2 separate regions of the Homo sapiens genome follow, and region 2 is linked to region 1. Evidence: fine-mapped expression QTL. A gene starts in region 1. The other region holds a variant in brackets. All regions are shown on one strand. Distances are between the middles of the regions. Region 1 holds the start of WDR47 (WD repeat domain 47). Region 2 holds the start of TMEM167B-DT (TMEM167B divergent transcript).

Region 1 (5,377 bases):
CGCCACTGCACTCCAGCCTAGGCAACAGAGCGAGACCCCATCTCAAATAATAACAATAATAATAAATAAATAAATAAATAAATATTGGAAAGTTCACTGAGATCAATTATGTTAAACATACTATATGAAGAAACTCCTACTTGTGATAATATTCATCTGAAGCCATTTAAACAGGAGAAGTTCAGGTGGGTAATGAGTGATGAGCATTTACTATGTATTAACAACATGCTACAAACTGGGATACAATGATCGAGCTATTACAGTGAATAAGACTATAGAACACAAAAGAAAGGTTTTAAGGGAGTGTGTGGTATAAATCCTTTTTTTTTTTCTTTTTGAGGTGGAATCTCGCTTTGTCGCCCAGGCTGGAGTGCAGTGGCATGCATGATCTTGGCTCACTGCAACCTCTGCCTCCTGTGTTCAAGCAATTCTCCTACCTCAGCCTCCCAAATAGCTGGGATTACAGGCACACGCCACCATGCCCAGTTAATTTTTATATTTTTGATAAAGACAGGGTTTCACCATGTTGCCCAGGCTGGTCTCAAACTCCTGACCTCACGTGATCCGCCCGCTTTGGCCTCCCAAAGTGCTGGGATTACTGGCACAAGCCACCACGCCCAGCCGGTATAAACCCTTTTTTAAGGATATCTTTTCACTTGAACAGAAACAAACTCAACATAGAGAAAAATTAGTTGAAATATGCAAGCTTTGGCTATTCGGTGTAATAGTCTCAAAACTGAAGTATCCTCAGGTGTGGGCCAGCATTGGATTTGGAGTCTGAAGACCTGGGTTCAAGTCTTCTGTTCAAAAATAATATACAGGGTCAGGCACGGTGGCTCAAGCTTGTAATCCCAACATTGCGAGCCCAAGGCGGGTGGATCACCTGAGGCTAGGAGTTCGAGACCAGCCTAGCCAACATGGTGAAACCCCATCTCTACTAAAAATACAAAAAGTAGCCGGGCGTGGTGGCAGGCACCTGTAATCCCAGCTACTTGGGAGGCTGAGGCAGGAGAATCGCTTGAACCCAGGAGGCAGAGGCTGCAGTGAGCCGAGATCATGCCACTGAACTCCAGCCTGGATGACAGAGTGAGACTCCGTCTCAAAAAAAAAAAAAAAAAAAAAAGGTAATCAACAGATGCCTTCCAAAGTGCTTTCAACTCAAAGCCCATTCTCAGACTAAAACAATAGCAAGCATCACCATTTTACAGAATGAGAAATCAGTCAATGTTAAGCTTAGCAGCTCTTACAAGAATGCAATCAGTAGCAAAAGAAAGCTTAAATACAGGTAATCTGATTTTTCAGCTTACTGATCTACTAAGGAAAACTGCACATCTTTTCATAACTAAAGCGTTTCTGAAACTGCAGCATACATTAAGCATTTCATATGCCGCCCATTAAATAACTAATATATTCTATTTCACAAACAGGAAAAGAGGTTGAACACCATTATGTAAGTAGTAACATAGGATAGTACCCCTGTTCTCTTATGACACATTCTTAACAGTACTGGTTTTTAAGGCGAGGGAGAAAAGAACCAGGAAGTGGACCAGTGGGAGATAAACACAGGTTAAAATCCCGTCCAAAAAAAAAAAAAAATTTACATCTTCATAATGGCATCCAAATTCAAGTGTTTGGGTTTTGGCTTTTTTACCTAACAATATACTGTTGTGACTTGACTTTTCCATTACCGTGTAATAATGTTTCTTTCCTATTGGAAGCAATCTCTCCTAATCTCCCAAACCTAAAGTAGAATTATTCATTTCATCTTCTTCCTAAATGAGACCTCGACAATATGCCATATAAAGGAAAATGGGCTCTTAGGCGTTTCTCCTTCTTAGTAAAATGCCAATGCAACATATGCCAACACTGGAGACAAAAAAATTCTACTTGAATTTACTGTGAAAAAAAGATTTATAGCATTTTTTAAACCTACATGTTCATTTCTGTGCCATTAACTTTTTGAGGCATTCTACAGAGTCTCCAACAAAGAGAGAAATAAGTATTAGGATCACAACCTACGAATCTGGGTGGAACAAAGACTTCTCCTTTCATTATGCAGAGAAAACCAAGTTGCCAAAAAAAAAAAACGGTCCCCTCAGATACCATGCACGGTTACTAACTGCACGTCTGGGTACAGAGAAGGAAAAATCATCTGGTCAAAAGCCCAAATGCCGCCCCGGCCTACCCTCGCCCCCCGCCCCCGCCCCCTTTGCCCATGGCCTCGCCCCAGAGCTAGAGTTCCAATATTTTTCTCCCCAATAAAGGGAAGCGGTTTAACCCTTTGAGTTCCACAACCTTGCGTTCTTCTACGCAGGCGCCCCTCCAGCGCAATCCCAGTTCTAAATCGAGTCGCTGCCCCTTTCCGCGACCACACCCAGATCCCCAAAGGCCTGCTCCCATCCCGACCATTGATGTGAGAAAGGCCAAAACCGGCCCCAGCGGGGCTCCCAGCCCCGCCGCTCCCTCTCTTCCTCCGGGCCAAGGCGTGCCCAGAAAGGGACGCGAGCGCGCCCCTCAGTTCTCGCACGGGCTCGACCAAGGGGCGAGGAAGGAAGAATCGGCGCAGCGGCGAGATGGGCACGAACCTCGCGCTCACTTGCTGCTCAGTGCCAGGGCGAGGGGCGTCGCTCTGCCCCCAGAATCCAACTGGTAATGTGGGAAAGGTGTGGTCCAGGACCGGTGACCTCGAACCGGGGCCCAGCAGTTCGCAGATCCTCACCCCGCGATGCTGGGGCCTCACCCACGACCCCAGCCCCCTCCCAGTCGGCACCCAAGCCCACTAAAGACCCCTCTCCGGGGCCGCAAACACAGTCCTCGGGGCCGCCCGGTCGGAGCCGTGTCAGGTGGTGACAGGAGGCGACGGGTGACCATGGCAACCCGAGGTGTGCAGCGGACCGACCCAGCCTCCGACTCCCGGAGTCACCCACCTGAGGGCTCCAGGGCAAGCCCGGAGGAGCGGCGGAGGAGAACGCGGCTGGGAGGCCGGCGGCCAGGGCCCCGAAGCGGCCGGCTCCGGGCTGCGGCAGGAGCACGACGGCGGCGGTCTGGGTTTGGCGTCGGTCCTCCCTCCTACCGCCCGCGCGTCAATCCATCAGTTCGTCAATCCGTCCTTCTCACGTCCGCCCCTCCCGGCCCAGCGACTCCTCAGCTCAGCCTCTTGCAGACTGCGGTTGTCAAGTGCCGGGGAGCCGAGCTCTACCCGCGAGCGGCAGCCAATCGCCGCGCTTCCCCGAGGCGCCTCAGGACCCCGCCGCGCGGGGCGGCCAGGCAGGTGCCTGAGCCGAAGGGCGAGTCGGCGGGGCGGGGCGGGGCGGGGAGGGGCGTGGAGGGGCGGGCCCAAAGCTGGGGCGGGGAGGGGCGGGGCGGACCAAAGCCTGGGCGGGGCGGACCAAAGCCTGGGCGGGGCGGGCGGGGGTCGGGCTTGGAGGGACCGGCTAGGGGCCCGGGGGAGTAGCAGAACGGGTGCGGCAATAGCGTGAGACTGGTGGCAGGGACGTAGACCCTTAGCTGGCCGGTGACCCCATGTCCCAAAATAGCACGAACAGGATTGTCGCCTGCAAATGGAGAAGACTGCGCATTAGGATTGACTCTTCATACTCCTCCCCGATAATTAATAAAGGTTAATGAAATTAATGTTGCCTTCTACCCTTCTTTCGCTGCTTTCCTAGGTCCCACTTCGTCCCAGAAAACTCCAGTAGTTTGTTTGTCCCCTTCCTGGTTTCTCATTTTGCAAAGCTGATCTGCCTTGAAAGCATTTTTCAGTTACTTAACATTTAATATGTTCAGGTTTTGTCTACTCCTGTTGGTTGTAAGCCCCTTATTCCACAAATATACGTGATGTTCAACCGAGCTTAATTAAGCATCCAGGAAGTATAACCATAAGGAAGAATACAATTACACAAACCTGTAAGAACATCATTCTCGGCCAGGCGCGGTGGCTCACGCCTGCAATTCCAGCACTTTAGGAGGCCGAGGCGGGCGGATCACCTGAGGTCAGGAGTTTGAGACCAGCCTGGCCAACATGGTGAAACCCCGTCTCTACTAAAAATACAAAAATTAGCCGGGTGTGCTGGCAAGCCTCCTGTAATCACAGCTACTTGGTAGGCTGAGGCAGGAGAATCGCTTCAACCTGGGAGACGGAGGTTGCAGTGAGCCGAGATCATGCCACTGCACTCCGGCCTGGGTGACAGAGCGAGAGACTCCGTCTCACAGAAAAAAGAACATCATCCTCACAGAGGCGAAAGTCCAGAGTGAGCTGGACCTCCCAAAAGGGGAAAATGGGGTAACAGTCTGGTAAAGAGAATAAACATCAAAAATATTTCTGGCACTCCCATGCTTATTGCAGTACTATTCACAATAGCCAAAATATAGAATCAACCTATGTCAATCAACAGACAAATGGATAAAGAAAATGTGGTACATATACACAATGCAATCTTTTTTTTTTTTTTTTTTTTTTGAGACGGAGTCTCGCTCTGTCGCCCAGGCTGGAGTGCAGTGGCGCCATCTCGACTCACTGCAAACTCCGCCTCCCGGGTTCACGCCATTCTCCTGCCTCAGCCTCCCGCGTAGCTGGGACTACAGGCGCCCGCCACCAGGTCCGGCTAATTTTTTTTTTTTTTTTTGTATTTTTATTAGAAACGGGGTTTCACCGTGTTAGCCAGGATGGTCTTGATCTCCTGACCTCGTGATCCACCCGCCTCGGCCTCCCAAAGTGCTGGGATTACAGGCGTGAGCCACCGCGCCCGGCCACACAATACAATCTTATTCACCCATTAAGAAAGAATGAAATCCTGTCATTTGCAGCAACATGGATGGGACGGGAGGACATTATGTTAAGTGAAACAAGACAAGCACAAAAAGACAAATATTGCACGTTCTCACACATATGTGGGAACTAAAAGAATTGATCTCGTGGAGGTAGTGAATAGAATGGTGGTTACCAGAGGCTAGAAAGTGTAGTGGAGGGCAAAGGGGGGATAAAGAGGTTAATGGGTACAAAAATACAGTTATGTAGCAGGAATAAATTCTAGTGCTCAATAGCATAATTGGGTGACTATAGTTAACAATAATCTATTCTATATTTCCAAACAGCTAGAAGAGAAGATTCAGAATGTTCCCAACACAAAGAAATAGTAAATGGCAGGCCAAGCGTGGTGGCTTATGCCTGTAATCTCAGCACTTTGGGAGGCCGAGGCGGGCAGATCACGAGGTCAAGAGGTCAAGAGATCGAGACCATCCTGGCCAACATGGTGAAACCCTGTCTCTACTAAAAATACAAAAATTAGCCGAGTGTGGTGGTGTGCGCCTGTAGTCCCAGCTACTCGGGAGTCTGAGGCAGGAGAATCACTTGAACCCGGGAGGCGGAGGTTGCAGT
Region 2 (5,377 bases), 44 kb after region 1:
CCATCCCAGGGTGTAGACGTCTACAGTGCTTCTCCCTAATTTGGGCTTAGTGAGGTTATGTCACTTTTAAAATGGCTTTCAGAATTTCTGCAATAATCTTAATGGAGTCTTAACCACACTTCCTATGGTCCATGGTTAAATATGCAGACTCTGAGATCAGATAGGTTGAGTCTGAAATCCTAGGTGTACTATTTATCAGCTATGTTACCTTGAGACAACTTACTTGACCTGCTGGTACACCCATTTCCTCATCTATGACAGGGGGATAATAATAGTTACTAACCATATAAGGTTATTATGAGGTTATTAGATGTGTTAATAACCATAAAGTGTTTTGGGTAGTACCTGGCATGTAGTGAATATTCCATAAGTATCATTGTTTTTATTTTTTTTTATTTTTTGAGATGGAGTTTCACTCTTGTTGCCCAGGCTGGAGTGCAATGGTGCAATCTTGGTTAACGGCAACCTCTGCCTCCCGGGTTCAAGTGATTCTCCTGCCTCAGCCTCCCGAGTAGCTGGGATTACAGGCATGGGCCACCACGCCTGGCTAATTTTGTATTTTAGTAGAGATGGGGTTTCTCCATGTTGGTCAGACTGGTCTTGAACTCCCGACCTCAGGTGATCCGCCCGCCTTGGCCTCCCAAAGTGCTGGGAGTACAGGTATGGGCCACCGTGCCCGGCAGTTGTTTTTATTTAAGGGCCTACCTTTCACCATTATCTTCTGCTGTTCTCCTTCATGAGCTCTGCATTCCAGTTCCACAAGGCCACATTCAACTATTCATGCAATAAATATTCATGAAGCACTTGCAAAATGTTTAGCACTAGCTATGGGATTGTGGATAAAATGACAAAACAAATGAACATTACAATATAGCAGGGGGACATAAGTTAAACAGATATAGTATGCTTTGGAAACATGATCAGGGAAGTAGACTGAAGGTCCGAGAAGTCTACCTTGAGCAAGTGAGGTCTGAGTTGGGACTTGAGGGATGAATGTGAGTTAGCCATTGAAGGAGGAAGGGAGGCTTTACTGTGCCCCAATCTTACCTTACACTTTCCCTCTCCAGGGCTTTGATGGCTCAATTCCCTCCCCACTAGAATGCTCTTTATTTCTGCTTATTGAAATGCTATAAGCTTTTCAGGCCCAGCTAAAATGTCTGCTCCTCAATAAAGCCTTCCCTGAACGCTCCAGCTGAAGGCAGTTTCCCATTTCTACGCACCCCCCCGCCACCCTGGCACTTAGTTTTCATTTTCCTTGGACACTTCTCACTTTCTGCTGTATTTTTTGGTTATTTATAAACACAGCTTATCTTTTTCTACTAAATCTTAAACTTTTTAAGAACAGAGTCTATTTCTCATTCATCTTTGAGTTCCCAAAGGCTAGCACATTCCTTAGATTTAGAAGTCCTGGAACAAATGTTTGTAGCATAAATTAATGCCTATTTGACATCCCTTTTCAAATATGTTGTAATTCAAATGAAGCTATTGTTGCAAGCTGTGCCTTTGAGGCTCAACTTACTCTTTGGTTAAACCAGAATGCCACAGTCATGGTCCCCATGACTGATTAGTGTTCACCACAATAACTGCAACAACCCTAACAAACAGGCCACTGTTCTTGACTGACAGGCGTTTGGCAACAACTACCAATTCTCCAGTGAACACTGAAATGAATTGAGGAAGAACTGTCTGAATTGAGAGTCCCTAGGCCAGTAGGCTCTATTTATTCTTTGCAGTTGGGCTGCAAGAGCTGGTCACCCAGGCTTTGGCCTGATGTGAGACATGACTGCACTGGGTGGCAGTGAGGCTATGAGACTTTCCAGGGTGACAGAAACATTAATGATTGTAACAAAATAATCAAAGATCAGTATCAGTGGAAAGCACTGTAATTTGAGGCAGTGTGATAACAAGGGAAAGGGAGCTTTGAACTTAGACCTGGGTATGGATCCTAACAGGCTATGTTATCTCACCCACGTCCCTTCTTTAAGTCTCAAGATTTAATTAAAAAAAAAATCTGTAAAACAGTTGTGAAAATCAAAGATACTGTCTTTACACAATGCTCATGTTCTATTAAAATGTGTTTATTCATCTATCTTACCCAACATATTTTCTTCTCTGAGGGCAGGGACTTATTTATGCCCCATTTCTGCAAAATCAAGCAAAGTGCTTAGCACACAGTAGTAGACACTGACAAGTACTTTTTTTTTTTTTTTGAGACAGGGTCTCGCTCTGTTATCCAGGCTGGAGTGCAGCAGTACAATCATGACTCACTGCAACTTCCACTTCCAGGGCTGAGGTGATTCTGCTACCTCAGCCTCCCGTGTAGCTGGGACCACAGGCATGCATCACCATGCCTGGGTAATTTTTTTATTTTTTGTAGAGACAGACTTTCACTATATTGTGCAGGCCAGTCTTGAACTCTTGAGCTCAAGCGATCCGCCCACCTCAGTGCCCAAAGTGCTGGGGCTACAGGCGTGAGCCACCAGGCCAACCACAGATACTTTTAAAACAAATTGTAGCAGGAGGAGCCTCAGACAAAACTCCTCAGACACCGAGTTAAAGAAGGAAGGGGTTTGTTCGGCTGGGAGCATCGGCAAGCCTCCTGTCTCAAGAGCCGAGCTCTTCAGGTGCTCAACTTGTGCTTTTAAGGGCTCACAACTCTAAGGGGATCCACATGAGAGGGTCATGATCGATTGAGCAAGCTAGGGGGTACATGACAGGGGCTGCAAGCACCAGTGGTCAGAGCGAAACAGAACAGAACTGGAGGTTTCACA[A/G]TGTCTTTCCATACAATATATGGAATCTATAGATAACATCAGTTGCTAAGTCACGGGTCGAATTTTAACTACCAGGCTTAGGTCAGGCAGGCCTAGGCCTGGTTTCAGGTGTGGTTCCTAGGCACTGGGCTACCTGCCTTTAGTTTCTCTTCTCTTTCCTTTTCTGAGTATAGAACAATATGAGAGGGTCTCTCTCTTCCCTCAAAATGAACAACAATAATAGCTATCATTTATGGAATACTTACTCATGTCAGATATTGTTGTAAATAGTAATTCACTTAATCCTCCAACAACCTTAGAAAGGAACTAACTTAATTTCACAGAAAACTGAACTTTTTTTTTTTTTGAGACGGGGTCTCACTCTGTCACCAGGCTGGAGTGCAGTGGCGCGACCTCAACTCACTGCAACCTCCTCCTCCCGTGTTCAAGCGATTCCCCTGCCTCAGCCTCCCGAGTAGCTGGGACTACAGGTGCGTGCCACCACGCCCAGTTAATTTTTGTATTTTTAGTAGAGACGGGGTTTCACCATGTTGGCCAGGATGATCTCAATCTCTTGACGTGATCTGCCTGCCTCGGCCTCCCAAAGTGCTGGGATTACAGGCATGAGCCACCGCACCTGGTCAACTTTTTGATTTTAGAATATAAAAGTCTTGATACAACTAATTTTGAAATAGCCTGGTGAGACTCACTCTATTCAATTAAAAAAATGTAAAATATCTTTTACAATATGAAAAAGAAAAAATATGGTGGAGGGAGAAAGAAGAAATAAATTTAAGAGTGGGAGAAAAAAAGTAGGAAGAATAGAGACAGACGTGGAAAATGAAGAAAAAGTAAATTTTGAGTGGAGTTAAAAGAAAACTGTTTAATCATAAGATACTGTGTGCATTATCACTGCCCTTTAGAAATAGTAATTTGAGGCCGGGCACGGTGGCTCATGCCTGTAATCCCAGCACTTTGGAGCCCGAGGCAGGTGGATCATGAGGTCAGGAGATCAAGACCATCCTGGTCAACACGGTGAAACCCCGTCTCTACTAAAAATACAAAAAATTAGCCGGGCGTGGTGGCGGGCGCCTGTAGTCCCAGCTACTTCGGAGGCTGAGGCAGGAGAATGGCGGGAACCTGGGAGGCGGAGCTTGCAGTGGGCCGAGATGGCGCCACTGTACTCCAGCCTGGGCGACAGAGCGAGACTCTGTCTCAAAGCTAAAATAAAATAAAATAAAAATTGGAATTTGCCACTGGGTGTGGTGGCTCACGCCTGTAATCCCAGCACTTTGGAAGGCCGAGGCGGGCGGATCACGAGGTCAGGAGTTCAAGACCAGCCTGGCCAACGTAGTGAAACCCCATCTCTACTAAAAATACAAAACTTAGCCGGACACGATGGCGCATGCCTGTAGTTCCAGCTACTCCGGAGGAGAGGCAGAAGAATTGCTTGAACCCAGGAAGCAGAGGTTGCAGTGAGCAGTGATTGCACCACTGCACTCCAGCTTGGGCAACAGAGTGAGACTTTGTCTCAAAAAAAAAAAATTGTAATTTGCCAATTCATCACTCCTCCTGGTTTTTCAGCTTTGATTTCATCCTTAATTTTTTTTTTCTGTTTATGAGACACAGTCTTGCTCTGTCTCCCAGGCTGGAGTGCAGTGGCGTGATCTCAGCTTAATGCAACCTCTGCCTCCCCGGTTCAAGTGATTATCCTGCCTCAGCATCCCGAGTAGCTGGGATTACAGACAGACACCACCACACCCAGCTAATTGTTGTATTTTTAGTAAAGACAGGGTTTCACGATGTTGCCAGGCTGGTCTCCAACTCCTGACCCCAAGTGATCCACCTGTCTCGGTCTCCCAAAGTGCTGGGATTACAGGTGTGAGCCACCATGCCCAGCCTTTACATTTTATTCTTTTTTTTTTTTTTTTTGAGAGGGAGTCTCACTCTGTTGTCCAGGCTGGAGTACAGTGGCACAATCTCGGCTCACTGCAACCTTCGCCTCCCAGTCTGAAGCGATTCTCCCTCCTGCCTTAGCCACCTGAGTAGCTGGGATTGGAGGCTCACGCCCCCATGCCCGGCTAATTTTTGTGTTTTTAGTTTTGTGTTTTTAGACAAGGTTTCACCATGTTGGCCAGGCTGGTCTTGAACTCCTGACCTCAGGTGATCTGCCCACCTTGGCCTCCCAAAGTGCTGGGATTACAGGCGTGAGTCATTGCGCCCGGGCTTAACTTTTTTTTTTTTTTTTTTTTTTTTTTTTTTTTGTGGTGGAGTCTCACTCTGTTGCCCAGGCTGGAGTGCAATGGCACAATCTCGGCTCACTGCAATATCCGTCTCCCAGGTTCAAGTGATTCTTTCGCCTCAGCTTCCTGAGTAGCTGGGATTACAGGCACCTGCCACCACTCCCGGCTAATTTTTTTGAATTTTTAGTAGACACGGGGTTTCACCATGCTGGCCAGGCTGGTCTCGAACTCCCGACCTCAGGTGATCCTCCCGCCTCGGCCTCCCAAAGTGTTGAGATTACAGGCGTGAGCCCCTGCGCCCAGCTGATTAACTTTTATTCTAACCTCTGAGAATGACAGAAGAGGAAAGACTTGTCTTTCAGAGTATGACAAAAACTGAAGAGG

What was found. PIP is the estimated chance that this variant, and not a neighbour inherited with it, causes the effect. A credible set is the group of variants that fine-mapping cannot tell apart.
Region 2: its variant is the best candidate, but not a certain one, in a credible set for the expression of WDR47 in whole blood (TOPMed, PIP 0.53).

What each region holds. Positions count from the first base shown.
Region 1 is chr1:109,038,935-109,044,311 of GRCh38, forward strand. WDR47 (WD repeat domain 47) reads right to left here and starts at 3,168. Exons shown (of 15, transcript NM_001142551.2): 1 at 2,928-3,168. RefSeq lists a silencer at 2,816-3,365.
Region 2 is chr1:109,082,510-109,087,886 of GRCh38, forward strand. It overlaps TMEM167B-DT (TMEM167B divergent transcript), which reads right to left and starts at 2,241. Exons shown (of 2, transcript XR_947688.3): 1 at 706-2,241. The variant A/G (reference allele first, on the strand shown) is at 2,772.